Linked DNA regions of Homo sapiens: all the other regions are reported to be linked to region 6. The links are microRNA targets in miRTarBase. Many come from high-throughput screens and were not tested one by one. Region 6 holds a microRNA gene; each other region holds the end of a gene's coding sequence.

Evidence for each region. Region 6 holds the annotated microRNA hsa-miR-490-3p (CAACCUGGAGGACUCCAUGCUG, at 3,592-3,613, shown strand). A microRNA usually pairs through its seed, bases 2 to 8, with sites in the 3' UTR of a target mRNA and lowers its output. Matches are read on the target gene's strand: a 7mer-m8 pairs with bases 2 to 8, a 7mer-A1 pairs with bases 2 to 7 and ends in A, and an 8mer does both.
Region 1: miRTarBase lists RBM7 as a target of hsa-miR-490-3p. Seed matches in the 3' UTR shown: 7mer-m8 at 4,315-4,321.
Region 2: miRTarBase lists TSPAN15 as a target of hsa-miR-490-3p. Seed matches in the 3' UTR shown: 7mer-m8 at 1,610-1,616.
Region 3: the mRNA of QDPR is a reported target of hsa-miR-490-3p. The part of its 3' UTR that is shown has no 7-base or 8-base seed match.
Region 4: the mRNA of ATP5MJ is a reported target of hsa-miR-490-3p. The part of its 3' UTR that is shown has no 7-base or 8-base seed match.
Region 5: the mRNA of NFAT5 is a reported target of hsa-miR-490-3p. Seed matches in the 3' UTR shown: 7mer-A1 at 4,607-4,613.

Annotation. Positions count from the first base shown.
Region 1 is chr11:114,407,060-114,412,485 of GRCh38, reverse strand. It overlaps RBM7 (RNA binding motif protein 7), which reads right to left. Exons shown (of 5, transcript NM_001286045.2): 5 at 1,879-5,041. The coding sequence ends at 4,679. Among named protein-coding and RNA genes, the nearest start is that of RBM7, 9.1 kb to the right of the region's middle.
Region 2 is chr10:69,505,831-69,511,266 of GRCh38, forward strand. It overlaps TSPAN15 (tetraspanin 15), which reads left to right. Exons shown (of 8, transcript NM_012339.5): 7 at 294-410; 8 at 999-1,836. The coding sequence ends at 1,148. Among named protein-coding and RNA genes, the nearest start is that of TSPAN15, 57 kb to the left of the region's middle.
Region 3 is chr4:17,482,642-17,488,077 of GRCh38, forward strand. QDPR (quinoid dihydropteridine reductase) reads right to left here. Exons shown (of 7, transcript NM_000320.3): 7 at 3,754-4,595. The coding sequence ends at 4,490. Among named protein-coding and RNA genes, the nearest start is that of QDPR, 27 kb to the right of the region's middle.
Region 4 is chr14:103,908,212-103,913,647 of GRCh38, forward strand. ATP5MJ (ATP synthase membrane subunit j) reads right to left here. Exons shown (of 4, transcript NM_004894.3): 4 at 4,077-4,483. The coding sequence ends at 4,455. Among named protein-coding and RNA genes, the nearest start is that of ATP5MJ, 11 kb to the right of the region's middle. RefSeq lists an enhancer at 2,575-3,075.
Region 5 is chr16:69,694,359-69,699,794 of GRCh38, forward strand. It overlaps NFAT5 (nuclear factor of activated T cells 5), which reads left to right. Exons shown (of 15, transcript NM_138713.4): 14 at 778-1,021; 15 at 2,002-5,436. The coding sequence ends at 1,013. Among named protein-coding and RNA genes, the nearest start is that of SNORD13H, 12 kb to the right of the region's middle.
Region 6 is chr7:136,899,651-136,905,086 of GRCh38, forward strand. It overlaps MIR490 (microRNA 490), which reads left to right and starts at 3,517; the gene lies at 3,517-3,644. The region is part of intron 2 of CHRM2 (cholinergic receptor muscarinic 2); the gene reads left to right. It overlaps LOC349160 (a long non-coding RNA gene), which reads right to left. Exons shown (of 4, transcript NR_046103.1): 3 at 2,200-2,351; 4 at 1-167.

The DNA of each region.
Region 1 (5,426 bases), not on the chromosome of region 6:
TTGTTTTCAAATCAGGTGAAAACTCCAGATTCATGCAGCTCAATGCACCCCAAGCACAAGAAACATGAAGAAAACTATGTCAAGGCACATAGTAATCAATTGCTCAAAACCAGCTAGAGAAAAATGACACATTATGTGTAAGATTTCCTTATGGGAAATAATCAAGAGAACAATGGACCAACTATTTTTATGAATTGAAAGAAAAGAACCTCATCAATTTAGAATTCTATACCTAGAATTTATTTAAATATATATTTCAAAATATTCTTCAAAATATATTTCAAAATGCTGAAAGAGACTTTTTTAGATATACAAAAGCTAAAAGATTTCATCACCTGCAAAGCTGCCCTATGGGAAATACCACAGGAAGTCTTTCAAGCAGAATAATAATACCAGATAGATAAATGGATCTAACACAAAGGAATGAGGAGCTCCAGAAATGGTAACTATGGGGGTAAATAGTAAGATTTTTTTTCCTATTTTTTCTTAAGTATTATATATAATTTTCTATTATTTAAGAATCTGCCTAACAAAAACAAGGTAGTGTGGGGCTTATAACATATATAAATGTAAGATGTATGCCAAAACAGCACAGCCAGTCTCATCTGAGGATGAGAGGGAAGGTAAAATATATCGTCAGAAACTAAAACTGCACTATTGACAATATTAGGAGTTTTACAAAAATTATAAGAAATACTATGTACAACTCTATAGCAATATATTCAGAAAAAGGGAATGGTTGATTTTCTTGAAAAGTATAAATTATCCAAATTGTTTCCTGAGAAAGTAGCAAACCTGAAAAGATAACTCTAAAGGAAATTGATAAAGCAATCAAAGAGCTATTTCCAAAGCAAACCCAGATAGTTGTATAAATGAGTTCAACACATCTTGCAGAAACGGCTAATTCCTTTATTATTCAAATTTGGGGGGGGGCATAGAAGATGATAAGCTTGCCAATTTATTTTATAAGGCTAGCAGAACCATACTCCTAAACCAAACTAAGATAATACAATTAAAAAACAAAATCAGGCTGGTACAGTGACTCATGCCTGTAATCCCAGCACTTTGGGAGGCCGAGTCAGGCAGATCACCTGAGGTTGGGAGTTCAAGACCAGCATGGCCAACATGGGGAAAACCCGTCTCTATTACAAATACAAAAATTAGCCAGGCGTGGTGGTGGGTGCCTGTAATTCCAGCTACTCGGGAGGCTGAGGTGAGAGAATCACTGGAACCCAGGAGGCGGAGGTAGCAGTGAGCTGAGATTGTGCCACTCTACTCCAGCCTGGGTGACAGAGTGAGGCTCTGCCATAAATAAATTAAAATAAAATAAAAACAAAGTCACACATTATTCATGAATACAGATCCAAAACTTTTTGAAGTTTGACAAAATGAACAAATAGAATTCTAGAATACATGTACTGTGACATGTAATTCTCAGGATGCAATGTTTTAGGTTTAGAGAGCCTATTCAAAGTTTTATGTGTTGAATCCTCCTTTTCCTTATTCAATTAACAGACGTTCTTCCTTTCATCAAAAAGTTTCACTGTTAAATATATGCCAGGCACTGGATCCTGGGAATGCAGTGATGAATAAGATAAGGTCTGTCTTCATAGAGCTGTCTACAGAGACAGACAAGTAAAAAGAAAATTATAATACAGTCTAAAGGCTATGATAAAAGAAAAAGATATTTGGGGAATACATAACTTGGCACTGAATCTGGATTTCAGAGCTCTGGAAAGGCTTTCTAGAGGAAGTAATGCATAGATTGAGCAGTGAAGGGCAGTTACTATGAGAACTAAAGTGGGGAAGTCATCAGAGGAGACTGAAGTAGCACATGCCAAATAGGGGTCATATTAAGTTGAGAATTTTGTACTTAAGTCAGAGGCCACTGAAGCTTTATTCAGGCGAGTGACAGATTTACATCTTCAATTCTTAAGAGTGTGGAATAAATTTGAGGAAAGAAGACTGGAAGCAGGAAAACATTAGGGTGTTCTTGGAATAATCCTCTTGAGAAAATTGCCTACTCTAAGATGGTAGCAGTAGGTATGGGGAAAGTGGGCACACACAACATAATTAGAAAGTGGTATAAAAATTTTATTTTAGATGGGGAAAGGTAGAAAATACTAGGTTAAGTATAAAGGGATTTCTTTACCTATAGTACTTGTCAGAAATTTTATGGTGCTGTTTTTGAGTAAAAGAAAGTCACACAGTAACACAAAATGGCTTCCAAACATTTGATTTTTTTTTTCTTTTTTTTAGAAGACTTTATGAGACACTAGCATTCCACAGGAAACACTATGGGAGAAACTGTTCTCCCACAAAAATAATCTCTTCTTCCTTTCTGTTCTTGCAGCTGTCAATATAGATGAAGCATCCCAAATCTGAAATCTGAAATGCTCCAAAATATGAAACTTTTTGAGTGCCAATACAGATGTGACACTCAGGGGAAAGGCTCATTGGAGCACTGTGGATTTCCGGACCTGGGATGCTCAACTGGCAAGCATTAATGCAAATATTCCAGAACCCAAAACACTTCTCAAGCATTTTGAATAAGGGATGCTCAAACCTGTACTTCTGAGTTGTCTCACCAACTATATTCAATTTTTTAAGGCTGTCTTGTCCTGTCCCTTTACACAATACATGTATTTAGTTTGGTTACTTTCAGCTCACTGAAAGTGAAGTGAAAAAGAAGATTCACCAGAACTTCACAAGCTTCCCTCAAAAAGCCATTGAAAAAGATTATTCTGAGTCAGGGTCATCTGTTAACCAATATAAAAGGATCCGACCCACAGATAACGTTGTAATAAAGCAGTATTAGGCCAGGCGCGGTGGCTCACACCTGTAATTCCAGCACCTCGGTAGGCCAAGGTAGGTGGATCACTTGAGGTCAGGAGTTTGAGACCAGCCTGGCCAATGTGGTGAAACCCCATCTCTACTAAAAATACAAAAACTAGCCAGGCGTGGTGGTGGGTGCCTGTAATCCCAGCTACTCGGGAGGCTAAGGCAGGAGAATCACTTGAACCCGGGATATGGAGGTTGCAGTGACCTGAGATCCCGCCATTGCACTCTAGCCTGGGTGTCGTAGCAAGACTCTGTCTCAAAAAAAAAACAAAAACAAACATGCAGTATTAATCTTCGTTAACATCTACAAACCTACTAAGTTTTCATATGGATAAGATACCCAAAAATAATAATCTCATTGGAAACAAATTCTGTGAAAATGCTTAAGCAAACAAATTGTTTATCTTAATTCTATAGTGAGTAGTTGAATAGCTACATTTACTTAGAAACAGAAAAACTGAATTCATTTATAAACAGGAAATCTAAGTGTACTTTAACTCCTAGAGACCACTGAGGGTAACTAAAGTACTCCAAGCTATAATCGAGGGGTCACTGAAAATCTGATTGTGAAACATCATGCTCTATATGTACAAAAGATGTATTTCAGGATGCTCAAAATTAAAGAACTGATATTCTAAACAGCAGGCAATCAGTGAATAAAAGTATGTTAATTCTTTGTGTACAATGTCTCTGAAGTCAGTGACATAAAAAAAAAAAAATAACACACACCCTTCCTTTTATATTTTCAGTATATTAAAAAGGAACAGTACAAATGCTGTGGTATTAAAAAGGATCCTTATTTTTCAACAAATGAACTTTTATAAACAATTCTGTAATGAAATGAAAACAGTATCTTAATACAAGCTTTTGTTAAACAAGATTTTAAAATTTTAAAATTAGAAAACGTTAAGATTAAACTCTTTCAAAGGTTCAAACAAAAAAACAACCTGTACAATCTCCATTACATGTGTCTTTGTACACAGTCTGGGCACTTTGAAAATGTTAAAGTTTTTAACGTTTGACTGACAGAAGCAGCACTTAAAGGCTTCATGAATCTATTTTCCAAAAAAGTATGCTTTCAGTAAAACATTTTACCATTTTATCTAACTATGCACTGACATTTTTGTTCTTCCTGAAAAGGGGATTTATGCTAACACTGTATTTTTAATGTAAAAATATACGTGTAGAGATATTTTAACTTCCTGAGTGACTTATACCTCAAATGGGATTTAATGAACAATTTCTAAATTTTAGAATGAAACAGTATGTGTAAATCTACACATGTATGTTCAACTAGGGTAAAGCTCAAGAGCATGTCACAGAATTTATACCTAAATTATATAAGAAGTTAAGCAATGCCTTTATCCCCAAACTTTACCAATAAGCCTTCTCAAATAGAATGTTAGTAAAGTGAATCACTGAAAAGTTTCATTTTTGAATTAACTAAAATACCAGTAGCCATTTTAGACTGTCAACCTGGATGTTTTCTTGATTCACTAGCAAGAAATTTCTTGCAATACAAAAAGATAACAAATAATTAAAATATCTGCTTTATCATACAACTTCACCCCCTCCTAAAGTGTCTAAAATGATTAGGAATTGTAGCACTTTCTTTTGCATAAAACCCTTTCCTCTTCATAAAACCCTGAGGTGAAAGGTTATTAATGTAATAAAACCGCAATTCATTTTGTATTAAACTGTAGCTTTAAAAAAATTTATAAAGAAATGTGACAACTTGTAAAGCTGCTCTGTACAGTTTTTCAACAAAATATTTCCATATCAACTTAGTCAAAGGGCCTAAAATGACCCTATAAAAACAATGTCCTTTTAACATGTGTTAGTGTCGAGATGAGCGCCATTTTCCATCTCTACTACTGTCTCTTCTGTTATCATAGTCATGGCTCCAGTCATCATGATTCCTGTCTTCATAGAAGAAATCATCTCTCTTTCCTCTGTAATGATGGTCAGACCCATGATCAGTGTAACGCTGTTCCCGGCTATAATGTCTATCTGCTAGGTAGGGATAAGAATTCATTCTGACTTTACGCTGTGATGATGGTGTACCTTGGCGCCACTGGGAGCTTGAAGACTGATTGAAACTATGACTGTGTGATTGAACTGATGGTGAAAATCCTGATTGATCCAGAGGTGAAGAACCAAATTTTCCACCATATGACATTTGTCTCAAAGCACTGTTCATCTGAGGAATAGGAAAAGTGGAAATGTTAATACTTCTAGATATCAAAGCTAATATGTATTTGGTCAGTTAACAGAAAATGAAAGAAAATAAAGTCACTCTTGCCTAGATGGATCCACAACTAAAGCAGTACAATAGCTTCAATCATTCCAATGTATACCTACAAGATACATATATATACATAAATACTACTCTTTGTCCTCAAGAATGCAACTCAGAATAAGTCACACAAAATGACTATAATGCAAAATCACTGTGTAAAAAACAAAGAATCAGGAGATCAGTATCATTAGGAAAGGTTTCATGAAGGTGGCATATGATCTGGGTATTAAAACAATGGATGGAATATTTTCATATTTTAAGGGAGAGATATGCCAAGAAAAGGAAA
Region 2 (5,436 bases), not on the chromosome of region 6:
CAGGGCAGTTGTTTGTGGAGTAGGATTACCCTGAGCTCTGCAGTCCCTCAGCCGCCAACCTCGTTTGCTGGGGCAACCAAAAGTGCCACCACGGTGTCCCCAGTCCTCTCTAGAGAACAGTACTGTCCATTAAGAATCAGAATCTAGGGTCACCTTCTCATGCTGCATATGGGAAACTGAGGATCACAGCGGTTGAGGGACTAGCCTGGACCTTGTGTACATGGCAGAGTCGGGGCTGTGGCTCCTGCCAGCCGAGGTCCTCTGCTGGGCTGACCCAGCTCCTTCCCATGCAGCGTTTCAGTGTGCAGGATGTCATCTACGTGCGGGGCTGCACCAACGCCGTGATCATCTGGTTCATGGACAACTACACCATCATGGCGGGCATCCTCCTGGGCATCCTGCTTCCCCAGGTGGGCAGGCCGTGGGTTCAGAGAAAGTGTGACTTGGTGATTGCAGAAGGGCAGAGAAGGTGCAGAGGGGAAGAGCGAAGAGGCTTTTTTCATAGAAGTCCAGGACTTGCCTGGGGAGGGCTGCATGGCTGGAAGGAGGGGCAAATGGCAATAGCAGTCGTGGCGAAGCTCTTCCAAGTGCTGCGCAGGCACTGCTGCTTCACTTCTTTTTGTGAGGGAGGCACTATTATAATGCCTATTTCACAGAGGAGGAAACTGAGGAGCAGCAAGCTTCAGTGACTTGCCAAGATCCCCTAGATAGTGTGCAGCAGAGCTGGGGTGGAGGCAGGAATCCCAGAAGGGAGGGGCCCTTGCTGATGGGGCACAGCGAGGCGCTCTGGGATTTCCTGGGAAGGGGAGAGGGGGCCCAGGTGGGAGCTTCTTGGGCAGTGTGGGTGCTGGGAGAAGTCTCTGCTGTGGGTGTTGCCCAGGTCACACAGGACCATGAGGGCTTGGGACTGGCTGCTTGGGTTTCTGGGAGCCGGGAGCTGCAGGGAGGGCTGCCCTGATTCCCAGCAGGCCCTCACCAGCCCTGCCCCTTCTTCTCAGTTCCTGGGGGTGCTGCTGACGCTGCTGTACATCACCCGGGTGGAGGACATCATCATGGAGCACTCTGTCACTGATGGGCTCCTGGGGCCCGGTGCCAAGCCCAGCGTGGAGGCGGCAGGCACGGGATGCTGCTTGTGCTACCCCAATTAGGGCCCAGCCTGCCATGGCAGCTCCAACAAGGACCGTCTGGGATAGCACCTCTCAGTCAACATCGTGGGGCTGGACAGGGCTGCGGCCCCTCTGCCCACACTCAGTACTGACCAAAGCCAGGGCTGTGTGTGCCTGTGTGTAGGTCCCACGGCCTCTGCCTCCCCAGGGAGCAGAGCCTGGGCCTCCCCTAAGAGGCTTTCCCCGAGGCAGCTCTGGAATCTGTGCCCACCTGGGGCCTGGGGAACAAGGCCCTCCTTTCTCCAGGCCTGGGCTACGGGGGAGGGAGAGCCTGAGGCTCTGCTCAGGGCCCATTTCATCTCTGGCAGTGCCTTGGCGGTGGTATTCAAGGCAGTTTTGTAGCACCTGTAATTGGGGAGAGGGAGTGTGCCCCTCGGGGCAGGAGGGAAGGGCATCTGGGGAAGGGCAGGAGGGAAGAGCTGTCCATGCAGCCACGCCCATGGCCAGGTTGGCCTCTTCTCAGCCTCCCAGGTGCCTTGAGCCCTCTTGCAAGGGCGGCTGCTTCCTTGAGCCTAGTTTTTTTACGTGATTTTTGTAACATTCATTTTTTTGTACAGATAACAGGAGTTTCTGACTAATCAAAGCTGGTATTTCCCCGCATGTCTTATTCTTGCCCTTCCCCCAACCAGTTTGTTAATCAAACAATAAAAACATGTTTTTTTTTTTTTTTTTTTTTTGCCTTTCCTGTGTGCTGTTTTGTTGGGGCGGGGGTAAGGAAGGCTGCAACCTGGATTTGGAAACCCCTTGTGGATGCGAGGATGAAGGGGGTGCATGGGGTGAAGATTTGGCATAGCTTGGGATACAGGTGGGGGGTTGGGGGGAAAGCCTCAGGGCCAGAGGTGACCACGCCTATTTTACCGAGAACCGAGGGAAACAGCCTGGGCCAGGTACAGCATGAGGCTCCACCTCCAGGAAATGGGGTGGATGGGGTGGGGGACCAGGGAAGCGGAGTTGCCCACAGGTCCACCTACCGCGCTCCCTGCAGCCCTCAGTGTGCCTAATGGCTGCCGCGCAACGCATGCAGAGCGTGGTGTCGGTCGACCCCTGCTGGAGATGCCGGGACTTGCGTGCGTCAGTCCACTCAAACCTTCGGGCCAGAAGACATGGGATCTAGATTTTTTGTGAGGCTCTTAGTAGCCAGGGCAATAGAAATAAAGTAGCAAGAGGCCGGGCATGGTGGCTCACGCCTGTAACCCCAACACTTTGGGAGGCTGAGGTGGGCCATCACGAGGTCAGGTGTTCGAGACCAGCCTGACCAACATAGTGAAACCCCATCTCTACTAAAAATACAAAAATTAGCCGGGCATGGTGGTGCGCGCCTGTAGTTCCAGCTACTCAGGAGGCTGAGGCAGGAGAATCGCTTGAACCCGGGAGGCGGAGGTTGTGGTGAGCCGAGATCACACCACTGTACTCCAGCCTGGGCAACAGAGTGAGACTCCATCTCAAAAAAAAAAAAAAAAAAAAAAAAAAAAAAGAAGAAGAAATAAAGCAGCAAGAGCCCCAAACCTGAAGGATTCTAACGGTGGGAACCATCTACACACCCAGTAGTTAAGTGGTCAGATGCTTGGTCTGCCATGGGTGCCAAACGCATGTGTAAGAAGGGGCAGGAGGAGGGTATTTTAAAGTATGCAATAACACAACAATAACAAACACACCATAGAGCATACTTTGCCAGGAACGATATTAACTCCTTTAATCCTCACGACTAGGGTAATTCTTATCTTCATTTTATTAGTGGGGAAACTGAGGCACAGGGCAGTTAAGTAACTTGCCCAGGCAGGCAGCTGGTAAGTGACAAAGCCATGACTTGAGCCCAGATAGGATCTCTTGAGCCACTCAGCCCCTCTGCTTTACTGTCTCTGTTGCCTCCTGTGCACACATGGTACTAGGCATGCAAAACCAGTGGAGGCTGCAGCTGCTTCTGAAGCTCTGTCCTGGGGATATTCACTGTAGCCGCTGCTGCAGCCTCTGTCTTGTCCCACTTTGACCTAATGGACACAAGGCCAGGTCAAGCTCTGTGTCTGGCTGGAGGCCTTGTAGTCCTGGGGCTCTGGCTGTTCTGAGAACCCCTTTTGTGCCCAGAGGGGAGACGGCAGCTGCCTTTAGGGGCAGCAGGATGGCAGAGGCCCCGTAGGAGACAGGCTGGTCTGAATCGCTTATCCAAGGTCACCTTACCTGGACCCTGGAACCCGGACCCCTTGTCTTCCCTCTTTCCAGCACCACTCACAGACACCCCTCTACCTCACACTGCACCGCTGGCCAGCTGCTTATGTGGACCAGCGCTGGTGCCACAGATGGCTAAGCTCCAGCAGACACTCATCTCCTCTTTTCCAAACCTTGGTCACTCACCTCTAAAGAAATGGAAGCATAAATATCTTATTTTTTTTGAGAAGTGTGTGTTCATATCCTTCGCCCACTTTTTGATGGGGTTGTTTGATTTTTTTTTTTTGTAAATTTGTTTAAGTTCCTTTAAATTCTGGATATTAGCTCTTTGTAAGATGGATAGATTGCAAAAATTTTCTTCCATTCTGTAGGTTGCCTGTTCACTCTGATGGTAGTTTCTTTTGCTGTGCAGAAGCTCTTTAGTTTAATCAGATCCCATTTGTCAATTTTGGCTTTTGTTGCCATTGCTTTTGGTGTTTTAGTCATGAAGTCCTTGCCCATGCCTATGTCCTGAATGGTATTGCCTAGGTTTTCTTCTAGGGTTTTTATGGTTTTAGGTCTTATGTTTAAATCTTTAATCCATCTTGAGTTAATTTTTGTATAAGGTGTAAGGAAGGGGTCCAGTTTCAGTTTTCTGTATATGGCTAGCCAGTTTTCACTACACCATTTATTAAATATTAAATAGGGAATCCTTTCCCCATTGCAGGTTTGTCAAAGATCAGATATTGTAGATGTGTGGTGTTATTTCTGAGGCCTCTGTTCTGTTCTATTGGTCTATATATCTGTTTTGGTACCAGTACCATGCTGTTTTGGTTACTGTGGCCTTATACTATAGTTTGAAGTCAGGAAGTGTGATGCCTCCAGCTTTGCTCTTTTTGCTTAGGATTGTCTTGGCTATACGGGCTCTTTTTTGGTTCCACATGAAATTTAAAGTAGTTATTTCTAATTATGTGAAGAAAGTCAATGGTAGCTTGATGGGGATAGCGTTGAATCTATAAATTACTTTGGGCCATATGGCCATTTTCACGATATTGATTCTTCCTAACCATGAGCAAGGAATGTTTTTCCATTTGTTTGTGTCTTCTCTTATTTCCTTGAGCACTAGTTTGTAGTTCTCCTTGAAGAGGTCTTTGACATCCCTTGTAAGTTGTATTCCTAGGTATTTTATTCTCTTTATAGCAATTGTGAATGGGAGTTCACTCATGAATTGGTTCTCTGTCTGTTATTGGTTTATAGGAATGCTTGTGATTTTTGCACATTGATTTTGTATCCTGAGACTTTGCTGAAGTTGCTTATCGGCTTAAGGAAATTTTGGGCTGAGACGATGGAGTTTTCTAAATGTACAATCATGTCATCTGCAAACAGAGACAATTTGACTTCCTGTCTTCCTATTTGAATACCCTTTATTTCTTTCTCTTGCCTGATTGCCCTGGCCAGAACTTCTAACCCTATGTTGAATAGGAGTGGTGAGAGAGGGCATCCTTGTCTTGTGCTGGTTTTCAAAGGGAGTGCTTCCAGCATTTGCCCATTCAGTATGATATTGGCTGTGGGTTTGTCATAAATAGCTCTTATTATTTTGAGATATGTTCCATCAATACCTAGTTTATTGAGAGTTTTTAGCATGAAGGGGTGTTGAATTTTATTGAAGGCTTTTTCTGCATCTATTGAGATAATCATGTGGTTTTTGTCATTGGTTCTGTTTATGTGATGGATTACGTTTATTGATTTTCGTATGTTGAACCAGCCTTGCATCCCAGTGATGAGCTGACTTGATCGTGGTAGATAAGCTTTTTGATGTGCTGCTGGATTTGGTTTGCCAGTATTTTATTGAGGATTTTTGCATCGTTGTTCATCAGGGATATTGGCCTGAAATTTTCTTTTTTTTGTTGTGTCTCTGCCAGGTTTTGGTATCAGGATGATGCTGGCCTCATAAAATCAGTTAGAGAAGAGTCCCTCTTTTTCTGTTGTTTGGAATAGTTTCAGAAGGAATGGTACCAGTTCCTCTTTATACCTCTGGTAGAATTTGGCTGTGAATCTGTCTGGTCCTGGCCTTTTTTTGGTTAGTAGGCTATTAATTACTGCCTCAATTTCAGAACTTGTTATTGGT
Region 3 (5,436 bases), not on the chromosome of region 6:
TTGTAAATCCAAATCATTAGTTAGTTTCTTTGATGTAGGGGCATTGTAAAAAATTACTGAGACACTAAGGGCACTGTGGGCCTAGAAAATTGGGGGACCCCTACCCTACACAATCATCTGTCTGATCTTATCTCCTGAAACTGCCCCTCTGTTTGCTCCATTCTCTGCCCCAGCCAACCCAGCCTCCCTGTGTTCCTCACCCCACCTGGTACACTACTGCCTCAGGCTCTTTGCAATGACTGGTTCCTCTGTCTTAAAATGTCCTTACCTCAGATGCCCTTGGCTGCCTTCTACACTTTCTTTCAGATGTGTTCAAACGTCACTTCCTCACGAGATATTCCATCACTGCCTGTATTAGTGTGGGCTGCCATAACAAAACACCACAGAGTGGGTGGCTTAACATCACACATTTATTTTCTCTGTTCTGGAGGCTGAAAGTCCAAGACTGAGGCTCCAGTCAATTCCATCTCTTGTGAGGGCTCTCTTCTCAGCTTGTGGACGGCAGCCTCCTTGCTGTGTCCTCACACAGACTTTCCTCAGTGCATGCGTGTGGGAAGAAAGTGAGAGGGAGAACTCTGGTGTCTGTCCTCATAAGAACACTAATCCTGTTGAATCAGTGCCCATCCTCACGAACCCATTTCATCTTAGTTACTTCCTTAGAGGCCCCATCTCCAAATACAGCCACATTAGAGTGAGGTCTTGAACATACAAATTTGGGGGAGACACCCACATTCAGTTCATAACACTACCATTTCTGAAATTGCAATCCCAATCTCCCCAACACTCCTTCACCCCCTTACCTTGCTCTCTTCCCCCCACAGTTCACCTTTCTCGTACTCTCCAATGAATTCATATTATGAATTCTATTGTTTATTATCTGTCACCCTCTCCCCCATCTAGAATAAAACTCAATGATTAAGGGTAGGAGTCTTTGTCTACTTGTTCTTTATGTGTCCCAGGCATCTAGGTTAGTGCCTTGTACACAGTTGGTACTCAAGATTAGCTGTTGAATGAATGAAGGAGAAAAAACATCTCCTTCCTGGCCCCTTTTCCCTTTTCATTCTCTTTGCACATCACCAGGGAAGGAAAAGAAACACACCTCAATAATCAATTAGTTTGAGGAGAGCTGGTAGTCTTCATTCCATTTAGAAACCAGATCTGGTATTCAATAATTAAAAATAATTAATAATTAATAAGCAGCCCAAATTTCCACCAACGGATGAGTAGGTAAACACCAGATTAAAAGACTTCCAAGCAGTCCATGATTCTAGCATACTCATCTATGACTGCTGGATATGAGATGTGATTTGATTAAAGAGACAGGCCAGGCACGGTGACTCACGCCTGTGAATCCCAGCACTTTGGGAGGCCGAGGCAGGCGGATCACGAGGTCAAGAGATTGAGACCATCCTGGCCAAAGTGGTGAAACCCCGTCTCTACTAAAAATATAAAAATTAGCTGGGTGTAGTGGTGCACGCCTGTAGTCCCAGCTACTCGGGAGGCTGAGGCAGAAGAATCGCTTGAACCAGGCAGGCGGAGGTTGCAGTGAGCCGACGTCATGCCACCGCACTCCAGCCTGGGTGACAGAGCGAGACTCTGTCTCAAAATAAAAAGGCAACACGATAAATGAAGTGCATTTATTAGGATAATCAACAGTTACCAGGTCCGGTTCTAAACGGAATGAAAACTACCAGCTCTCCTGAAACTAACTGTACCCTCGTTAAGTCTCTTAGTGTGTGGAACTGTTTCTTCATCTGAAAATTGAAAACAACAAGACATGCAAGGTACAGCATGAGGTAATGTGCTCAGGGTGCTTTCAACAGCTAGACTTGTATACTAGTTCCAGCTGCGCAGCTCTCTAGCTAGGTGACTTTGAACAAGCAGTCCAACCTTCTGAGCTCCCATTTTCTTTCCTGTAATAGTTGGATAAAATCACCTCGTAGTGGCAAGAATCAAGAGACTTCTCAAAAGTTAAACATAGAGGCCAGGCGCAGTGGCTCACAGCTGTAATTCTAAGCACTTTGGGAGGCCGAGGCAGGTGGATCACTTGAGGTCTGGAGTTTGAAACCTGCCTGGCCAACATGGTGAAACTCTGTCTCTTCCATCTCTACTAAAAATACAAAAAAAAAAAAAAAAAATAGCCAGGTGTGGTGGTGGACACCTGTAGTCCTAGCTACTCGGGAGGCTGAGGCAGGAGAATCACATGAACCTGGGAGGTAGAGGTTACAGTGTGCTGAGATCGCACCACTGCACTCCAGCCTGGGCAACAGAGCAAGACTCCATCTCAAAAAAAAAAAAAAGATAAACACAAAAATTACCATATGGTCGAACAATCCTGCTCCTAGGTATATATCCAAAATCATTGAAAACAGATACACAAACACTTATACATGAATGTTCACAGCGGCAATGCTCACAACAGCCAAAAGGTGGAAACAGCCCAAATGTCTATCAACAGATCAGTAAACAAAATTGCAGTGGATACATATAATGGAATATTATGCCACAAAAAGAAAGAAAGTACTGATACATGATGCAATGGGGAAGAACATGGAAAACATAAAGCTAGGTAGAAGCAGCCAGATACAAAAGGTCACATACTGATTCCATTTATACAAAATACCCAGAACAGGCCAGGTGCAATGGCTCACGCCTGTAATACCAGCACTTTGGGAAGACAAGGCAGGAGGACTGCTTGAGTCCAGGAGTTTGAGACCAGCCCGGGCAACATAGCAAGACCTGTCTCTACAAAAAACTTTAAAAAATATCTGGGTGTGGCAGCACGTGCCTGTAGTCTCAGCTCCTCGAGAGGCCAAGGTGGGAAGATTGCTTGAGCCCAGGAAATCGAGGCTGCAGTGAGCCATGTTCATGCCACTGTACTTCAGCCTGGGTAAGAGCAAGACTGTCTCAAAAAAATAGTAATACCCAGAATTAATTCACAGAAACAAAATGAAGATTGGTGGTTGCAGGGGTTAGGGAGCAGGAATGGGGAGGAACTGCTTAAAGAGCTCTGGTTTTTCTTTTGGGGTGATGGAAATGTTTGGGAACTAGACAGAGGTGGTGATTATGCACTACTGTAAATGTGCTAAATGCCACTGAACTGCTCACCTACTTAACTTTTAATACTTAAAATTAGCCTTAAAATGGCTAATTTTGGCCGGGTGCAGTGGTTCACACCTGTAATCCCAGCACTTTGGGAGGCCGAGGTGGGCAGATCACAAGGTCAGGAGATCAAGACCATCCTGGCTAACACGGTGAAACCCCGTCTCTACTAAAAATACAAAAAAACTTAGCCGGGTGTGGTGGTGGGCGCCTGTAGTCCCAGCTACTCGGGAGGCTGAGGCAGGAGAATGGTGTGAACCCAGGAGGCGGAGCTTGCAGTGAACCGAGATGGCGCCACTGCACTCCAGCCTGGGCGACAGGGTAAGACTCTGTCTCAAAAAAAAAAAAAAAAAATTATGTGAATTTCACCTCACTAAAAAAAGAAAGAAAATACGTGGTAAAGGCCTTTAAAAACAGCAACTGTCTGGTGACTAGAGATCTGGGCTTAGCTCTGCCAGTTACTGGCAACAAGGTAATGTCTCTCTGGGCCTCAGTTTCCTCATCTGTAAAATGATCGGGTTGGATTAAACCACTACTAGTTCTCAACCAGGACAGCCTACATTGGCCATATGTGGAGAGCTGCTTCTAAATGCACAGGGCCATCCCATCACCCCCAGATTTTGACATGTCCAAGGCAGAATCAGGCCTGTGTTCTTGTGTTGAAATATTTATTTCAGGATTTAAATCCACCCCCTTCTGAGAACATCAGATTAAAAGACCTCCAGCAATCCATGATTCTAGTATACTCATCTCTGACTGCTGTATATAAGATGTGATTTGATTAAAGAAGACAGACAACAAGTGCATTTATTAGGAACAACATTCTGAATACTCACGAGTAGTTATCTTGCACACTTAACCCTAGGCCAGAGGACACGGGGCAACCACACAGGAAAAGGATACCAGGACAGAGTCCATGTAGTTTTGCTTATACCACAAAAGGAGTTAAGGCAGTTTAATTCAAGGATGCGAAAACTACGTCTATGACATAAACATGACATTCAAAAATAACTCAGCCTTTAAAATGTCCCCAATACCAACAAATCAACAAAGTAGTCAAGATGACAGCCACTGTCAAGGACAGATGAACAGTCACAAAAGCGATCCAACATGACACCGCTATAGCAGGTGCTATGCAGAGCCCTCCCTATGCAGTTAACACAGATCAACGGATGCTATTTGCAGGCCACCAGTCTCGCATGTCTTTACTTCACATAAATGTATTACACTGTCCTAGGAGAGCAAATGCATATTATGTGAGAGAAAAATAGGACTCATTATCTCGTACCACAAACAGGGGTTACAGAAAACACAAGGCTGGACAAGGCCACACTGAGACAGGTTAGTGACTTTTCTGGCAGGCCCCTCATAGGCACTGAGATGAGGCCTAAAAATATGCTGGGGTGAGTTCCGTCCTTCCTTCTGTGGTTACCACCTGGATTAGGCTTCCTGAGCTCGGTCGGTTTTTCCCTGTGATCCAGTCATGGAAAGTTCTGGAACAGAAAATAAAAGTTTTTTTTATATTCTCAAAGCAAAAATCTGGGCACATGCTGACCTTCACAGTGACGGCTTGTGGGGTGGGGGGAAGGGGTGGCACAGCAGCGACTGTTTAAAAGCCACTAAGGGCTGGGCGCCATGGCTCACACCTGTGATCCCAGCACTTTGGGAGGCCGAGGCGGGCAGATCGCTTGAGGTCAGGAGTTCGAGACCAGCCTGGCCAATATGATGAAACCCCATCTCTACTAAAAATACAAAAATTGGCCGTGGTAGCACGTGCCTGTAATCCTAGCTACTCAGGAGGCTGAGGAAGTAGAATCACTTGCACCCGGGAAGCAGAGGTAAGCCGAGGTTGCACCATTGCACTCCAGCCTGGGCATCACAATGAGACTCCGTCTCACAAAAAATAATAAATAAATAAATAAATAAAAGCCACTAAAGGTCAGGCATTATGGCTCACCCCTATGATCCCAGCACTTTGAGATGCCAAGGCGGGCGGATCGCTTGAGCCCAGGTGTTTGAGGCCAGCCTGGACACAATGGCAAGATTCCATCTCCAAAAAATAATAAAAAATTAATAAAAGCCAGTAGGCATGATGGACACATACCCAGGCCCCCAGTGAGTTCAGTGGTGTACTCATTCTAATCTCTGAGTGGCAGGATTTGGCATAAGTTTAACTTTCATTTTGGTATTTTTCTACATTGTTGGAATTCTTTTGTGATTTTAAAAGATTCTAATTTGGCCAGGCGTGGTGGCTCACACCTGTAATCTCAGCAATTTGGGAGGCTGAGGCAGGTGGATCACTTGAGCCCAGGAGTTTTTGAGACCAGCCTGGGC
Region 4 (5,436 bases), not on the chromosome of region 6:
ACAGCATGGAAACATTTATAACCATGAACATTTCAGTCCTGAGTTGTAGTTTTAAAAATGTTTTTATAACCATAAAAAATTCAGTCTGGAGTTGTAAATTTAGTTTAAAAAGTAAGGTTTTTTTGGGGGGGAGGGGCAAGGTCTCACTCTGCCACCTGGAATGCACAACCCTAGCTCACTGCAGCCTTGGTTACCCAGGCTCAAACGATCCTCCCACCTCAGCCTCCTGAGTAGCTTGGATTACAGGCGTGAGCTGTCACAGCCAGCTAATTTTAAAATTTACTTGTAGAGACAGGGTTCTGCCATGTTGCCCAGGCTGGTCTCAAACTCCTGGCCTCAAGCAATCCTCCGGCCTAGGCCTCCCAAAGTGCTGGAATTACAGGCATAAGCCACTGTGCCTGGTTTAAAAAATAAGTTTTTATTCCTAACTAAATGAGAGTTTTCTGACATTTTCCCTCTAGACTTAGGTGTTCATTAACTCTGGCCTATATTACATCATTCTTTAAGAGGGAAAACAAGTGAAAAAGCTGAGACTTCCTTTGTAGTAAGAGACATCAGGGGAGCGGTTGTTGTGAAGAGTGGTGATGAGACAGTCACTGTCTGACAGAGCCGCCCGCAGAGTCGTTACCTTCATTTCCTGGGGCTGCACAGTGCCAGCTTCTCAAACAGGTATTATAATACTAACACAGGCTTCCATCACATGGCTTTTTTTTTAAAGTATTTTTAAAAACTTTTTATTGGGAAAAGTTAAAATGTATGCAGAGTGAATTCTGTAATGCACTTCTAGACGTCCACCCCCTACCCTCTACACAATTACCGATCTCATCCCATCTAGAGACTCCGTCCCCCCAATCTGTTTTGACTGGCTAGTATTTGCTGGTGTATCTTAAAGTACATCCTAGGTATCATTTCACACCTACATAATTGCGCCTGCATTTCTTTCTTTTTTCTTTTTGAGACAGAGTCTCTGTCGCCCAGGCTGGAGTGCAATGGCACGATCTCGGCTCACTGCAACCTCCGCCTCCTGGGTTCAAGCAATTCTTATGCCTCAGCCTCCCAAGTAGCTGTGATTACAGGTGCGTGCCACCACGCCTGGCTAGTTTTTGTATTTTTAGTAGAGACACGGTTTCACCATGTTGGCCAGGCTGGTCTTGAACCCCTGACCTCAGATGATCCACTGTGCCCGGCCTGCACCTCCATTTCTAAAACCAAAGAAATTTTCTTTAATAACTACAATACCACTATTGTGGTGGTGATCACCTAATAAGATTAACACTTCAACATCACTTAACACCCAGTCCACGTTCACATTTCTCTGTACGTACCAGAAATGCCTCTTGGTGGCTGGTTTGTCTGAAGGGTGGAAGCAGGGTCCGTGCTCAGAGCTGGCTGTTGAGCAGGTGCTGTGCTTGCTCCAAGGCCCGTGTGCAGCGAGGCCTGATGCTGGCGCCCGTCAGACGGTTCCTAACAGCACAGACGTCCAGGATTGTGTCTGCCAAGCACTGGCACTGTGTGTCTGCAGGTCTGTTCTCTAGCCTCTGTGTTCAGGGAGTGAAGAGAACGTGTGCTAACCACCGCCGCATCCCCGACGGCAACGCACGCCCAGCACAGGTGAAGGAGCTCTCTGAAGCCACGCTGTGGTCCGAGTCCCGATTCTGAAGCGGGTCAGATTTTGAATCCTGGCCAACCAGTTAACTAGTTGGTTTGTTAGCCAGGTAGTTATCCTCTAGTACAAACTACTTATCCTGTCTGGGCATCCATTTCTTCAGCTGTGAAATGGGGTGATGGTATGGGCTCACGGGTTATTGTGCAGATAAAAATGAAGCAGACTACGGCCTGGCACCCCGGAACTCGGGATCCGTTAGCTTGACAGAGACAACTCCCTTGAGGGTGGCAGGAAGCACACCCTCCAAAGCCTCTGGTTGGGGTGCGTGTACCCCTGGGATACAGTGACAATCAAGAAGAAACACCATGCCTTCTCCTAGAGTCTCATCTGAGGCTAACTTAGAGCACGTTGTTTAAAATGACACCTTCAGCTGCCTGTGAGCCACTTCCTCTCCTCCCAGCCTTTGTCGTTACTCTGCAGCACAGCTGAGCACTGCATTAAGTCAGAGCAGCACGAATGCGTAGGCTTTGGGACAAAAAGCCTCTGGGATTCCTTCCTGAACTGGCCCTGCCCACTCCCGTGGCTCTCTGTGCATACCTCTTGCCCATTGGCACCGCCCTCCAAATGCTCCTTTCAACAGATCCTCCTGGCCCCGTGCTCCTCGCCCACGGGGAAGCCCAGGTGACATTCTCTAGCTCCACCTACAGGCTGCCTTCGGGACAAGACCTGGTTGTTTCCAAAACCCCGAGGGATTCAGTGTGTGAGTGAGTTCTGGGATAGCAAATGCAATTATTTTTTGTTTTCTTTTTGAGACAGGGTCTCGTTCTGTCGCCCATGCTGGAATGCAGTGGTGTGATCTTGGCTCACTGCAGTCTCGACCTAAGCTCAAACAATCCTCAAGCATCAGCCTCCCCAGTAGCTGGGATTACAGGCGCACACCGCTACGCCTGGATAATTTTTGTTATTTTTTGTAGAGATGGGGTTTCGCCATGTTGCCCAGGCTGATCTCAAACTCCTGGGTTCAAGCGATCTGCCCGCCTCAGCCTCCCAAAGTGCAGGCGTGAGCCACTGGGCCCAACCTACCCTGGTAATTTGCCAAAGGAAGCCTTAAGTAGTAAAGGGAGAAGAGGAATGGCCCAGCCTTTGTGGGGAAGCCCTCCTGGGTCAGACACATCAATCTCTGCTTCCGGGGGTGAGGTGGGGGGTGGGGGTGGGGAGGGCAGCTCCCATCCGTCCTCACCTCCCTTTGGAGGAGAGTTCAGGTTCTGGGGGTTCAAGTCCTAGCCCCAGTGCTTGCTAACTGCGACATCTGTAGCGTGTTACTGCCTCTCAGCCTGTTTCCTGTTCTGAAAGTCAGGGCCTGTACTGATGCCTCACTAGGTTCTAAGGTGGACTAAATGCACTAAGATGCGTGACACAGGGCTGGAGCCTGGTGCCAGTGCAGTGGATGTGAAGGCTGTGATAGGGCAGGCCTGGGTTCTTTGTATCATTAGAAATTTTCCAGCTGGGGTCCTGGCATCCGCATGTCCTGGATGCTTGTTAGACATACAAGTTCTTGGGCTCCTTCCTACAGCAGTGCAATCAGAACACTGGGGCCCAGCTGGCTGTTAGGGCCTTCCAGGTGATTCTAATGCACTCTCAAGCCTGAGCAGCTGGGCAGATGGATAATTTTAAAGGTAGGGCCTTTCTGTACCACAGCAGATTCATCTTCTGGAGGCAGAAGAGAACAAAATACGTTCGCAGGAAAAATGTGATTCCTGTGTCAGAACCAAACCCTCTGAATCTCACACGACCTGACGCTGACTTCCACTGATGCTGTGTAATGCTTTCCTGCAAACTTCTCACACAGCCCAACAACCCTGAGGCTGTTGGAGGAAGCCATGACAGGTTTTGGTTGTCTTACAAAAGAAACTGAGGCTCAGAGAGATCTCCGTCATCTGTTGGACATCTACCATGGGCCAGACCTAATGAGGCTAAATGCCAGAGACACAGATGATAAACAGGATGGTCTCAAGAGGACAGGACACCCAGGGTGCAGCCACCACCCCCATTCCACAGCTGCTCTCCTACCCACCTGCAGAGTGCCAGATTTCAAACTGGACTCACTTTTACCCCCATGCTTGCTGCTTTAGAATCTTTTTAGCGCACAATTTAGGGATCTTGGTAATTGTCTTAGATGGAGACAAATATTATGCAGTATGCATTTGATACTAGCCTAACTAGAATCAATTGGCTTTTTTTTTCAATTGGCTTATTATGTACTTTGCCTTGTGATTATTTCCTGATGCAATATTCTCCTACAGCTTATAATTTCAACTACTATGTCATTGAATGCTACCTTATTTCTAAAGGACTTCATAGTTTAAATCTTTCTCTTATTTATCCTCATAATAACTGTAAGTTAGAGCTTACATAATTAACATCTCCATTTTCCAAATAAGAAAACAAGAGGCTCAGAGAGGCCACAAGATAAGTAGCAGGATCAAGTTTAATAAACGTTTATTGAGCAGTAGAATACAAGTGAGTGCCTGGATCCTGATCACCAAGTCCTGTACAACTGAGGTAATTATTTCACAATGATGGGTGGCTCAGTGAGATTCTGATTGCATGCGCTGCATGACAAATTATCTACTCAGAGTATGCCTGACACGCCGGAGGGGCTGAGGGGGAACACACTGAAAGCAGTACCAGGTAGCAGTGCATCTCACAGATCCATTTATTCATGCCATGAAGTAAACGGTACTTATACAAGTGTACAGTGACGTTCCACGCTCCCCATCTAACACGGCTTGCTGAAATTTACAGGCAGACTGACGTTTTCTTTCACATGTACTCCAAGTAAATCTGGTTAGTGATGACCAGGAGCAGGCGCTGAAGCTTTTGAAAGAGATGCATATATAAATATGATTTAAGAAGGAAGGAACAAGTTGGATGTAATTTATTAAACAAGTATCAAAAGAAGTTGATCAACAGTCCAAAAAGATAAATGACACCTTTCAATACTATTGAAAAGTAGGATTATTTCTATATGAAACACCCAGAGTGCTTAAGGGTTCATGTAATGACAGCAGACAGGCAGTGGTCACCCACAGCGCAAAGAGAGAGGCAGGGAAACACCTCCTCCTCAAACTCATGTAGCCAGTCCTGGGTTTGTGTAACATTCAAATGGCTACAGTTTCATTGTCACTCTGGCATAAATTTATAAGGCGCTTTCTTTCAAAATACATTAAAGGCCAGGCGCAGTGGCTCACGCCTGTAATCCCAACACTTTGGGAGGCCAAGGCAGGTGGATCACCTGAGGTAGGAGTTTGAAACCAGCCGGCCAACCCCATCTCTACTAAAAATACAAAAAATTAGCCGGGTATGGTGGCGGGCACCTGTAATCCCAGCTACTTGGGAGGCTAAGGCAGGAGAATTGCTTGAACCTGGAAGGCGGAGGTTGCAGTGAGCCAAGATTGTGCCACTGCACTCCAGCCTGGGCAACACAGCGAGACTCTGTCTCAAAAAAAAAAAAACCCAAAAAACAAAACCAAACCATTAAAAACACATCATTACGGGTAGGCTGAGGCGGGTGGATCACAAGGTCAGGAGATCCAGACCATCCTGGCTATGTGAAACCCTATCTCTACTAAAAATACAAAACATTAGCCAGGCGTGGCGGCAGGTGCCTGTAGTCCCAGCTACTCAGAAGGCTGAGGCAGGAGAACGGCATGAACCTGGGAGGCGGAGCTTGCAGTGAGCTGAGATCGCAGCACTGCAGTCCAGCCTGGGCGACAGAGCGAGGCTCCGTCTCAAAAAACAATAAACAAAATAAAACGACATCATTAGGG
Region 5 (5,436 bases), not on the chromosome of region 6:
ATTCTCCTGCCTCAGCCTCCCAAGCAGCTGGGATTACAGGTGTGCACAACCACGCCCAGCTAATTTTTGTATTTTTGTTAGAGGCGGGGTTTCACCATGTTGGCCAGGCTGGTGTTGAATTTTTGACCTCAAGTGATCCGCTGGCCTCGGCCTCCCAAAGTGCTGGGATTACAGGCGTGAGCCACCACACCTGTCCTGTATAGTTGTTTTAAGAGTACAGATTGTAGTTAGAACTCTATCACCTATAGACTATAAGATCTTGTACAAGTTATTTGGCTTTTATGGGTCTCAATTCTCTCATTTAAAATGGTGATAATATTACATACTTTACATGGATTTGGGGAGGATTAAATATGGCAATGTATAAAAATGTGTGTTTGCCATTTTAAGCTATAAACTTAAAAGGAAAATGAAGTCAGAATGACAGATAATACCTTACCCAGTTGAAGTAAGTAGTTTCTAAGGAGGTAGAAACTCATCTTTAATGTTTATATACCAAGGAATTTATATAGGACTTTTGATATTTAAGCAAAGTTGTATTTTTAGACTGCTTAAAGGAAACCTAAGATGAATTCCAGTGCCAGTCTGTGAAAACCTTTTTCTTGGACTATCAGGTGCCTAACTTTTAGTAATATACAAGGAGAATGCAGTAATGAATTTTCCCCAACAACTAATAAATATCTTTTCATGAATCTTTACTAATCAGATAGCTTCTATTTTTAATGTTTCTGCAGACTGTAGTCAGCTTTTAAGCTTCTGTTTTCAATGTCTCTGCAGACTGTAGTCAGCTTTTAACCTCTGGACCAGCTACATTGCCTGATCAGTTGATGGCCATAAGTCAGCCAGGCCAACCACAAAACGAGGGCCAGCCACCTGTGACAACACTTCTTTCTCAGCAAATGCCAGAGAATTCTCCACTGGCATCCTCTATAAACACCAACCAGAACATCGAAAAGATTGATTTGCTTGTTTCATTGCAAAACCAAGGGAACAACTTGACTGGCTCCTTTTAACTGGATATGTAAGTATTGCATTTTGGCTTCTTATTGAAAAGCATCAGATTTTATTCTTCTTAACAGATTTAGGTTAAGTAATAGTAGTTCTAATCTTTTAAAATGTGGCTTTCTCACAAGATGATACTTTTTTACTCTGAATAAAATTATTCTGAATGATAGCTTATGGTCATATAGTTAATACAGACCAGGCCGGGCGTGGTGGCTCATGCCTGTAATCCCAGCACTTTGAGAGACCAAGGTGGGCGGATCACGAGGTCAGGCGATCGAGACCATCCTGGCTAACATGGTGAAACCCCGTCTCTACTAAAAAATACAAAAAAAAAAAAAAATACAGACCAAACATCCCTAGTCCAAAAATCCAAAATCCAAAATGCTCTGAAATCCGAATCTTTTTGAGTGCTGACATGACATCTCAAGTGGAAAATTCCACACCTAACCTCATATGATAGGGTCATAGTCAAAAGTCAGGCTCACAACATGCAGTTTATTTGGTGTCCCCAAGGGTAAAAAAGATCCTTCCAGCTCCCTTCAGCTGTGATAGATTTTTTTAGGTGTATGTGAAACAGAAGTGAATTTCATGTTTGGACTTGTGTCTTATCCCCAAGATATCTCATTGTGTATATGTGCATATTCCAAAATCCAAAAAAGAAATCAGAAACACTTCTGATCCCAAACATTTTAGATAAGGGATACTCAACCTATATTGGACATTCCTTCTGCCTCTGAGCTTCTTTGCCTTGGAATAACAAAACATCTGATGAGTATGCAAAATGTGTTTCCTTTGTACTATATATTGGATATAACCATGCCTCACTTATCCCTTCCTCCAGAAATAAATATTGAGTCAGAAAAGTCTGTGGAAGATCAAATATGATAAAGTTTTACTTACAGTACCATAATATACTTTAGGATCATTCAGGGTGTCAGAAACTTTATAAATGCTTCCCTCCCTAGTAAGTTAAATTAAACTTTTTCTCTTTTTTAGAAATTCCACGAAGAAAATCCTGATTCCAAGATGTCCTGAGATCTTGTGGTTCCATGAGAATTATTACTTTAAAAACAAAACAAAATATAAAAAACTGTGTTTGAGTAAACTGATAGATTTTACTCTGACTGCAAAAGAGCACACCTATGCTGCTTGTTGCAGTAACTAACCACCAATGTTAACATCTTCATATTTTATATTCCTAATAACAGTGATGACTGAGAATCTATTTGAGTTTCCAGCTGGCAGAATTAATTGTTATTATTTTCCTAGGCGCAATTTCCTTAAACGTACAGTTTAAATTCAAGGCTGGACCACTCAGTTATTATTGCTATTAGAAAATAATATATCATGTTTACTTTTGTTCTTCATTATTTTCTTTCCTGCATTGTTTTAGTCAAGTAATGGCTTTTGAAAAAGTAAAGTTCAATAATAACTAAGGCTGTGATTTTTTTCAATATAAAAGGCACAGCTGTTGGCCAAAGTGAAGGAATCTTTTTTCAGTTTTATTGGAGAAACTGAAGGGTAACATTCTAACAAGTAAACTGTATGTGCAGATAAAAGTACTCTTGATTTAACACAAAGGCAGATGATACACTTATAAAACTGGGAACAGCTGGAATGCTTCTTGATTTTATTTTTTCAGAGAGTTGTTAGTTCTCTGGGTTTCTACTAAGGGGTTTAGCCATAACTGTGCATAGAAAAATAATTATCTGTAAAAAATGAAGGGGATAATATATGATAAATTATGTTCTGATATCCTCCTACAGTAGTTTAAATTGACAGAAAAATTTGAATGTTTTCTTCTTAACCCAGTCTTAGGCTGGTATTCCCTTTTTATATATATCTATATTACTTTTCACCTCTTTTTCACTTTACTTTAGAGAACTATTAATATACTACTGGCTTCATGACCCTGTAGCATCTTTGGCCACTTTAATCTAGGGTGACCTAGCAATCCTGCAGCACAGGGCAGAGAGTACTGTCTTAGGAATTATTAGGAGTTGATTCCTGAGAAACAACACATTTTTCCCCATGAACGGTGCTGTTCTGAAGTCTTCAAATTTTTCCCTCTAATAGGAAACAGTATAAATTTTAATTAAAAAAAAAAGGCAAACTAAAATTTCTTGAAATATCACTTCTCCCTGATCTGCAGTGAGTATAAATTCACTTGTCACCTCAGTGCTTTACAGTTTGAAGTGGTCACTTACCTGATGGTTCCCACAAGCCTTAGGCTTTACAGGGTTGTATCATTGACTTAAAATGAAGAATTAACTTGTGTTACATCTATAAAGAGCAAAATAACACACTCCAGAACTTGGCAGTTGTAGCATTAGTTATACAGTTTTGGGTGTTCTTGCCACCCGTGGGATGCCTGCTTCTCACTACCACCTGTGTCTGGACACATGCTTATGTCTCATTTTCCTTTTGGCATGTGGAAAGCTGTCAATGCAGTGTAAGGCCAACGTGTGTGTGGCTTCTATGTGTTGAGATAATGTTTTGGTATCCTTGTCCGTTTCATTTATTTTTTAAGTGTACAAAAAATAACCTGTTAATTGTTGAAGGCTACTTTTCTGTTCTTTTTTTTTTTTTTTTTCTATCCTGTACATTTAGTTGAACTGTGCGGAATTGTGGTGTTGGTTTTGTTTACACAGCCAGATTTTTCCTTCTTTTTGTTTTGTGATGATCTTCCTTTGTTCTTTGAATGTGCTCTTTTGTCTTTTTCTCTTTTTTCTCATGTTTTCTTCCCTCCACCTCCACCCCTTTCTTTCTTTCTCTCTCTGATTGAGAGGCATTGAATTACGTTTTCAGTAGTACAGGCTTCTTGCCGATATGAAGGGAACTTTTCAGAAAGAGACCTACTCTGGGTCATTTAATTTTGAATACAGTTTTCAATCGTTCAAGTTTTGGATGGTTTATATCTAATGTGTGTTTCATTTTTTTGGAAAGCTATATTTTGTATTTAGGAAATGGTATACTATTTTGCTATTTGTACTGAGTGAGTACATTGGCATAAATATAGAAATTTATATATATACATATATATAAACTATTCTTTTTTGCCACACATTTTTGTGGTAAATTTGTGAGTTTGTCTGATGTTCTACCACAACGTGGCGTCTGATAACAGTGAGGGGGGGTGGGGTTTGTTATGTCTTTATTGAGTATTTAAGTATCTTTTGAAACAAATGACCTGTTCATCTGTGGCCATTCCATCAGGCAGTTAGTTCCTTGATGTCAGTAGTGGGCTAAAGGCAGCTTACTGTGTGTTTGCTGGAGCTTTCACTCAGCCAAGTGTTAGAGTCAGGAAACCCATTGAGGCAATGGCGTCAAATGGTGTTTCACAAGAATGAGCCATTCAGTCTTTGCTCACTATATATTTAATATTTTATTATTGTTGTTATTGTTATTATTAATTGGCTTTCTGTATTCTATGCCTTTTATTTATAAAGACACTAAGAAAACCCATGTTTGTAATTTTAATAACATTTTTCCCATCTTGTAATATCCAGAGCTACTTTATAAATTCTCTGAACCAAAAGTATTTTCCTCAGTGTATCTCTTCTCCCCCAGCCCCTATTGGGAAAAATTACCCAGTATAGTTCAGGTTATGAGGAGGATCAGCCACACAATCCAGTGCTTCAGTTTGAAAATGTAAAATTCTAACCCTAAAGTAGGGTTGGTTGAAATTTCAGACAAAGCAAACCCAGCAGGTATAAAAAGTAGTATAAATACAAATCTGTAAGTTATTTTTGAATTTTCTGAACTTTTTTCTAAGAGATTACATAGGAGACTAAAGAAATCTATCTGTTCAAGTTCTAATTAGGATGATTGTTAATACTGCACTGTGGATGAAGTGGCGACTGGCTTGTGTGCTGACTTCTGTGGTTTAGCAAGAGGTTTATTGTTATCAAATGCTAATTGGCAATGCCAAGTCACTGGGACCAATTTTCTGTTTTATAATATCTAAGTTTAGAACAGAATATATACCTGAACTGTAGTGGTTTGATCGGATGGAGACAGAAAACCCGATTTTTATTCTCATAAATTTTGTGGTTATTTATACAAGGGCTGTGCTATGCTACCATATTCTTGTTCAATAATAATAGGTTTGTTGTTTTTTTTACATTGTTAAATGTTCCTTACCCCTAAAGGTCAATGTTAAGTACAACATTCTGAAAATACAATTTGGCTACGAAGAGTATTCATCTTCTTTGAAGCTCAGTGGTTGATATTTGTGCTAATAATGCAATTTCCTGATTACTGTTACAAGTTATAGCTACATATGGGAGAGACTCAGTGAGCCAGCAAAGGCCATAGAAACAACAATTTATTAAATGTATTTATGGCAGAAGGACCTAAATAAACTGTGAGCCACCTTTTCTTCTTTATATTGTTACATTTAAGTGTTCTTGCTTTCAGCAACTCACATTA
Region 6 (5,436 bases):
TCTTTAGAAACAATGTAGCAGAAATATACAGAGAATATTAAATCCTGCATACTCCTTCCTAATGTGTTCATGTGTATTATAAAATATAGGATGTAGTAATCCATGTCTTGCTTTACAGTGTAGAACTCAATGACTTGTTTTTGAGAAAATCAGGATCTTCTTCAGAGCTAATATTTGGGAGGAAAGATATAAACAGGAGTTATGGGCTAGGTGATAAACCATAGATATGAATACACTTCATAGTTTAAAAAGCTTGTTTCATGCAAATACCTCTAGCAAATCCCTGGGGAAAAATCAATATTGAAAATTATCTAGAATAATCATCTTCTCTAAACAAGAGTTCTTAGTTTTTCTCATTGCTATTATTTTTCTTTTTAATTTACTGGGAGGCATTGAAGACTGTATAAATAAGTAAAAACAAACTCACATACCTAGTGAGCCATGGTTTTGTTTGCATGAATTAAAAGGAGAAATGAAATTCCGTCAGAACAAAAGACAGGCTTATTTCTGATACTATCATCACCACCAACAGCAGGTGATACATTCCCCAACCCTTGGCTCTGAGTCAGAGAGCAGCCCAATGTGGACACTGAAGATACTAGTGAAAGGAAACAAAGACCCTTAAACAGTTCCTAGGACTAACCTAAATGTTTTGCAGCCAAGTTAACTATTTTTTTTAATATTATACTACATTACTAGACTTAGCCATAGGGAGAAGTAAAACCAGACTGATTTTGCCCTGTTAGTAATTTTGAGCAGGAGGCTGCGTTGAAAACTAACAGAATGGAGCCTTAGCTTGGAGCAGCAGCATCTGATGGATTTGATCACAGGCTTACTTCAGTTTGGTTCTCCCAGAAACAAGGCTCACTTCTACTTGTGAAGTGCGAGGAGCCATCTAGGAAGGAGGGGATGTGAAAAGGGAAGAAGAGGCTGCCAGTAAAAAGGTTTCTATTAAGCTGGGCATCTCAGAGGAGACTGGAGCTTACACACATGAGGCATTCTAAGAAATGGCACAGAATTGCTCGTCTCATAATTATCTTGCCAACTGCTAAACAATCTTTTTTTTAAAAAAAGAATTGTTATTTAAAGCCTGCTCCTAGAGGCTGTAAACACCCGAGGCATTTTTGGTTTTCCGTATGTGCAGGGTGAGCAGAGTGGCCTTCCTAGGTTTCTGAAAAAGCCCCCAGACACAGAGAAGCAGACAGTGGCATATAGACGTCAGCAGGGGAACACTGAAAGATCTGAATGATATGGGTAGGGTACCAAGAATGTGAGCTACACACCTCTATTCATAACAGAATTTTGAGCTCCAATCAAGGCATGGATATATTCTTATTTATAAATTACATAGAAATAATTTTTCCATGATTATGTATATCATAGTACATACACAAAAAACCTCTTTTAGAGAATGATATAACAGTAATTGAGAACGGAGTTTCTAATACTTTCTTCCTGCAAGCCAGTAGATTGTCCTGTACAGCCCGGGGAGTGTGGGCACCCCCAAAGTGGAAACGAGTGCCCTGGGAAAGGAAAAATTCCATTTCCAAGATCCAGGCATGTGAGAATTACGTGAAATTAAATATGTGGACTTGCGGTTTTTGGTTCTTGGAAAAATAGAAAGGTATAGTGGGTTGCATGCAGTTCTAGCTGCATTCCAGCTAGAAACAGATTGAGACAGTTCAGATTCACAGGCACTTGCAGGGCAAGTTTTCAATGTCACTGTGGCTTTACCACGTAGGCAAATTTGAAAATAGACACACTAAATATTGACTACAGGAAAAGAAAAATGTGTATTTATTCATACAAAACACATTTATTTAGCATCTATAATGTGCTGTGCCCTGACCTATAGTGACCCAAACAGATTAGCAGATCTCACCCGATCTTGTAGTGCAGTGATTTGAATAGCAATGATCTTTGGACCCTAAGCAACCCAGTTTGGCCATTCCCTGATGTCATTTTTTTCCCCCATTTCCATTGTTATTTTTTGAGAACATACAGACGCTTTTTGATCCATTTGTTGTAAGAACCTAGCCTCTTGATCAGTTGCATTTACAAAATAACAACATTGATAATTTCATAAATGTGTAAGATTTACAGCTTACAAAGAACTTGCACACACATCTCATGCATAACTCACAAAACCTCTTAATTCTTTCCCAATAATACAGGGGAATCATGGACTCAGGGGCTGACCTCCAAAGACGCTGTTGGTGGTAAATTGTTAGAGCCCCGAGATGTGACTTAAATTTAGGTTTTCTGACAGAGGTGTGCTGCTCGTCTCTATGCTAATCCATTACACAGCCAGACAGGAAGAACTGTCAGTAGATTCTGATCAATTTCTCTTTCTATAAAAAAAAATGATAAGCTTAGTTAAATTGTATTAGATAAGTGAAGGGTTGTTTATAACAGTCCAGCCTCCCCTTAGCTTCTTCTATGGCTTTCATTAGGCTCCATCAAAGCCTACTCTCAAAACAAAATATAAAAATAATTGTTAACTACTAACATTGATTCTGTGATCTTCCTTTTAAACTCATCTATCTATCTATCGATCTATCTATCCATCCATCCATCCATCCATCCATCCATCCATCCATCCATCTATCCACCTAGCTATCCTTCTATGTTTGCAGTCAGTTGCTAGTTATTAAGATAATCAGAATTGCTTTCAGAATTAATAATTGGTATAAATTTCAGAAGAGTTTGAATTTAGGTGGCAAATTCATAATAAGTGAGAAGGTAAGCTATAGCATCCTCTGATAATGTGTGCAGTTTACTTTTTATCTGTCTCTTTCTAATTGAAAACTAACAAATATAGCCCCAATTAAATGCACGTAAAAATTAGAAGCTGGTGGGATAGGGTATTAAACACAATCCTAGATGACTCTTATGAACTCATACCATAAGCAGCCACTTTCTTTCTCGAGCAAACTATAGTGAGAATGAAGCATCTTAGATTGAGAAGGGATTAGGACGACCCTGAATGGAATGGGCAAATCATAAACAGCTAGGCCCTTAGAATTTGGTTGCAGTCCCAAACCCAGGTCAGTTTTTAAACATGACTATCAGCTAGATATCCTTTCTCCACCATACAATAATAGATAACAACCTTAATAAGACGTGTAGACATTAAACTTTGAAATTCCACAGTAAGATGTAAATATTTGCTCAATCAAGTACAATTTAATATGTTTGTTATACAGCAACTGCAGAGCACAGAATTTTGTACTCTTTGGATGTTTATGATAAGGTACACATTATTTGCAAGTTTTTGCTTGTTTCCTTGTTCAGTTTTTCATTATCAAACAAACAAAGCTTCTCAGCCTGGGATTAACCTGGAGTCTGGAAAGTATACATTATGGCCAGCAACTTTAAACAATAGGCCAGAGATGGGAAATGAATGAATGAAATTCTGACACAGAAGACAAACAACAGAAACTCATTTGGGCTAGTGTAGGTGTAGGTTTTTTATTCTTCAACCAACGGTGGTGAAGAGGATCTCCCTTCACTTTATGGAGGCCTTGCTGGTTTGGAAAGTTCATTGTTCGACACCATGGATCTCCAGGTGGGTCAAGTTTAGAGATGCACCAACCTGGAGGACTCCATGCTGTTGAGCTGTTCACAAGCAGCGGACACTTCCAACTCCATCTTCCCAAGAACTAAATGGGTGTCTTCTATAGTGTATGTGCAAATCTCCTTCAAAAGGAAGTCTTACTCTTCCTGCTTTCAAAAATGGGAACAAAATTCACACCTCAGCATCCAAGTATTTGTTATTTTTGTGGATATTGTTAGAGCTGGTGTCACAATGTAAACTACTAGGATGAAAATAAGTATTAAAAGATTTCTCTTTTAAAAAGCTGATTAGAAATGATAGAAGTATAAGTAAAATATTTGTTTGTGAATTTTAATTATGTACAGAATGAATTTTAGTAACAGGCAAATCTAGCATTTAAGACTGCAATTTTCTAAAATTTAAATTTATTGGATTTCTAAAGTTGGTGTATCAGCATATTATTCTTAAATAATACGCCTTCTGTTTTACAATATTTCTCATTTTTATTTATATCTTTAATTGGCTAAATGTTTTATAATGTTAATTAATAATGCTGAAACAGTCATTCTTGTGATGTTTTAATAACTCTACTAGTGTTTTAACAGTAATATGGCCTTGGGGTTTGGTTTAAAGTAGGTGTTGTACATGATATTAAGGAGATGACCTTTATCAAATGTTTTATTTTTCTTGTATTGGAATTATCATATATATATATTTTCTTATTCAGACTATGTGAAGTGACATGTTATTTGTTTTCCTGATACTAATACATTTCTAAATCCAATGGCTTTAATTGTCATGATATGTTACTCTTTTAATGTACTATTGAATTCCATTTGCTACCATTTTACTAAAGCATTTTGCATCTACATTTGCAAGTGAAACTGAGTTAAAAGTTTGTTTTTTTAATTTTTGAGTTATCTTTGGCTGAAATTTATTTCATAATCACTTGATTATATAAAACCAATTGGTAGCTTCCCCTTCATCCTTATACTGTTGAAAATTTTACATAGAACGATGATCAATTCTCTAAATGTTTGAATGGCCCTTCCTGGAAAACTTCTGGTAAAAAGCTCAAATCATTTTTTACAACAGTTTTAAAAATTATTATAACATTTTTCTAAGTCACTTGCCTATTCACATTTTCTATATCTCTACTCATTAATTTTGTTAAATTATAGATGGCTACCATTATCTATTTAAGAAAAATGCTTGTAGTATTTATCAAATAATTGTGCATATGATTCTGTTAAAATAATTATTCTCCAAATTTATCTTTCCTTTCTTTTTCCCAATATTAAATGTTTTTCTCATGCTTTTTTGCCAGAGTTTTGTGGCTTTTGATTTTTATAATTTATTACTTATCTTACTTTTGTAGTTACTTCTTTTTAATTCTGTAGAGGTTTTTGTTTCCCTTTTTAAAATAATTTCTTGAGTTTAAAGCTTAGTTTCTTCTGCATTATAAAATTTTGATACTTCTTCTTTAATATTGGGAACATTTATAGCTATGAATTTGTTTCTGACAACTGCTTTAGTCTCATCTAAATGTTTAAAATATAGCCTGGTTAACATTAAGGGAGCACAGGCTTGCTGCTTTTCAGTCTTTTGGCTAAGACCAGGTGAAAAAGAGCACGGGTTTAGAATCAAGGAGCTTAGGTTTGAATTCTGACAGTTTCACACATGTTGTGAGAGGGACTTTAACTCACTACACTTCTGTATTTGTAATTTAGAGTGAGTATATTTACATTATAGTGCTTTGTAAGATTAAATGAGATATGTTTATAAGTGTACAGTACTGTGATGATAGCAAAATCAAATGTTCAACACAAATATTAATATTGGTTGAAAATTATAGTTTGGGTTGTTCTTTTTTGTATAAT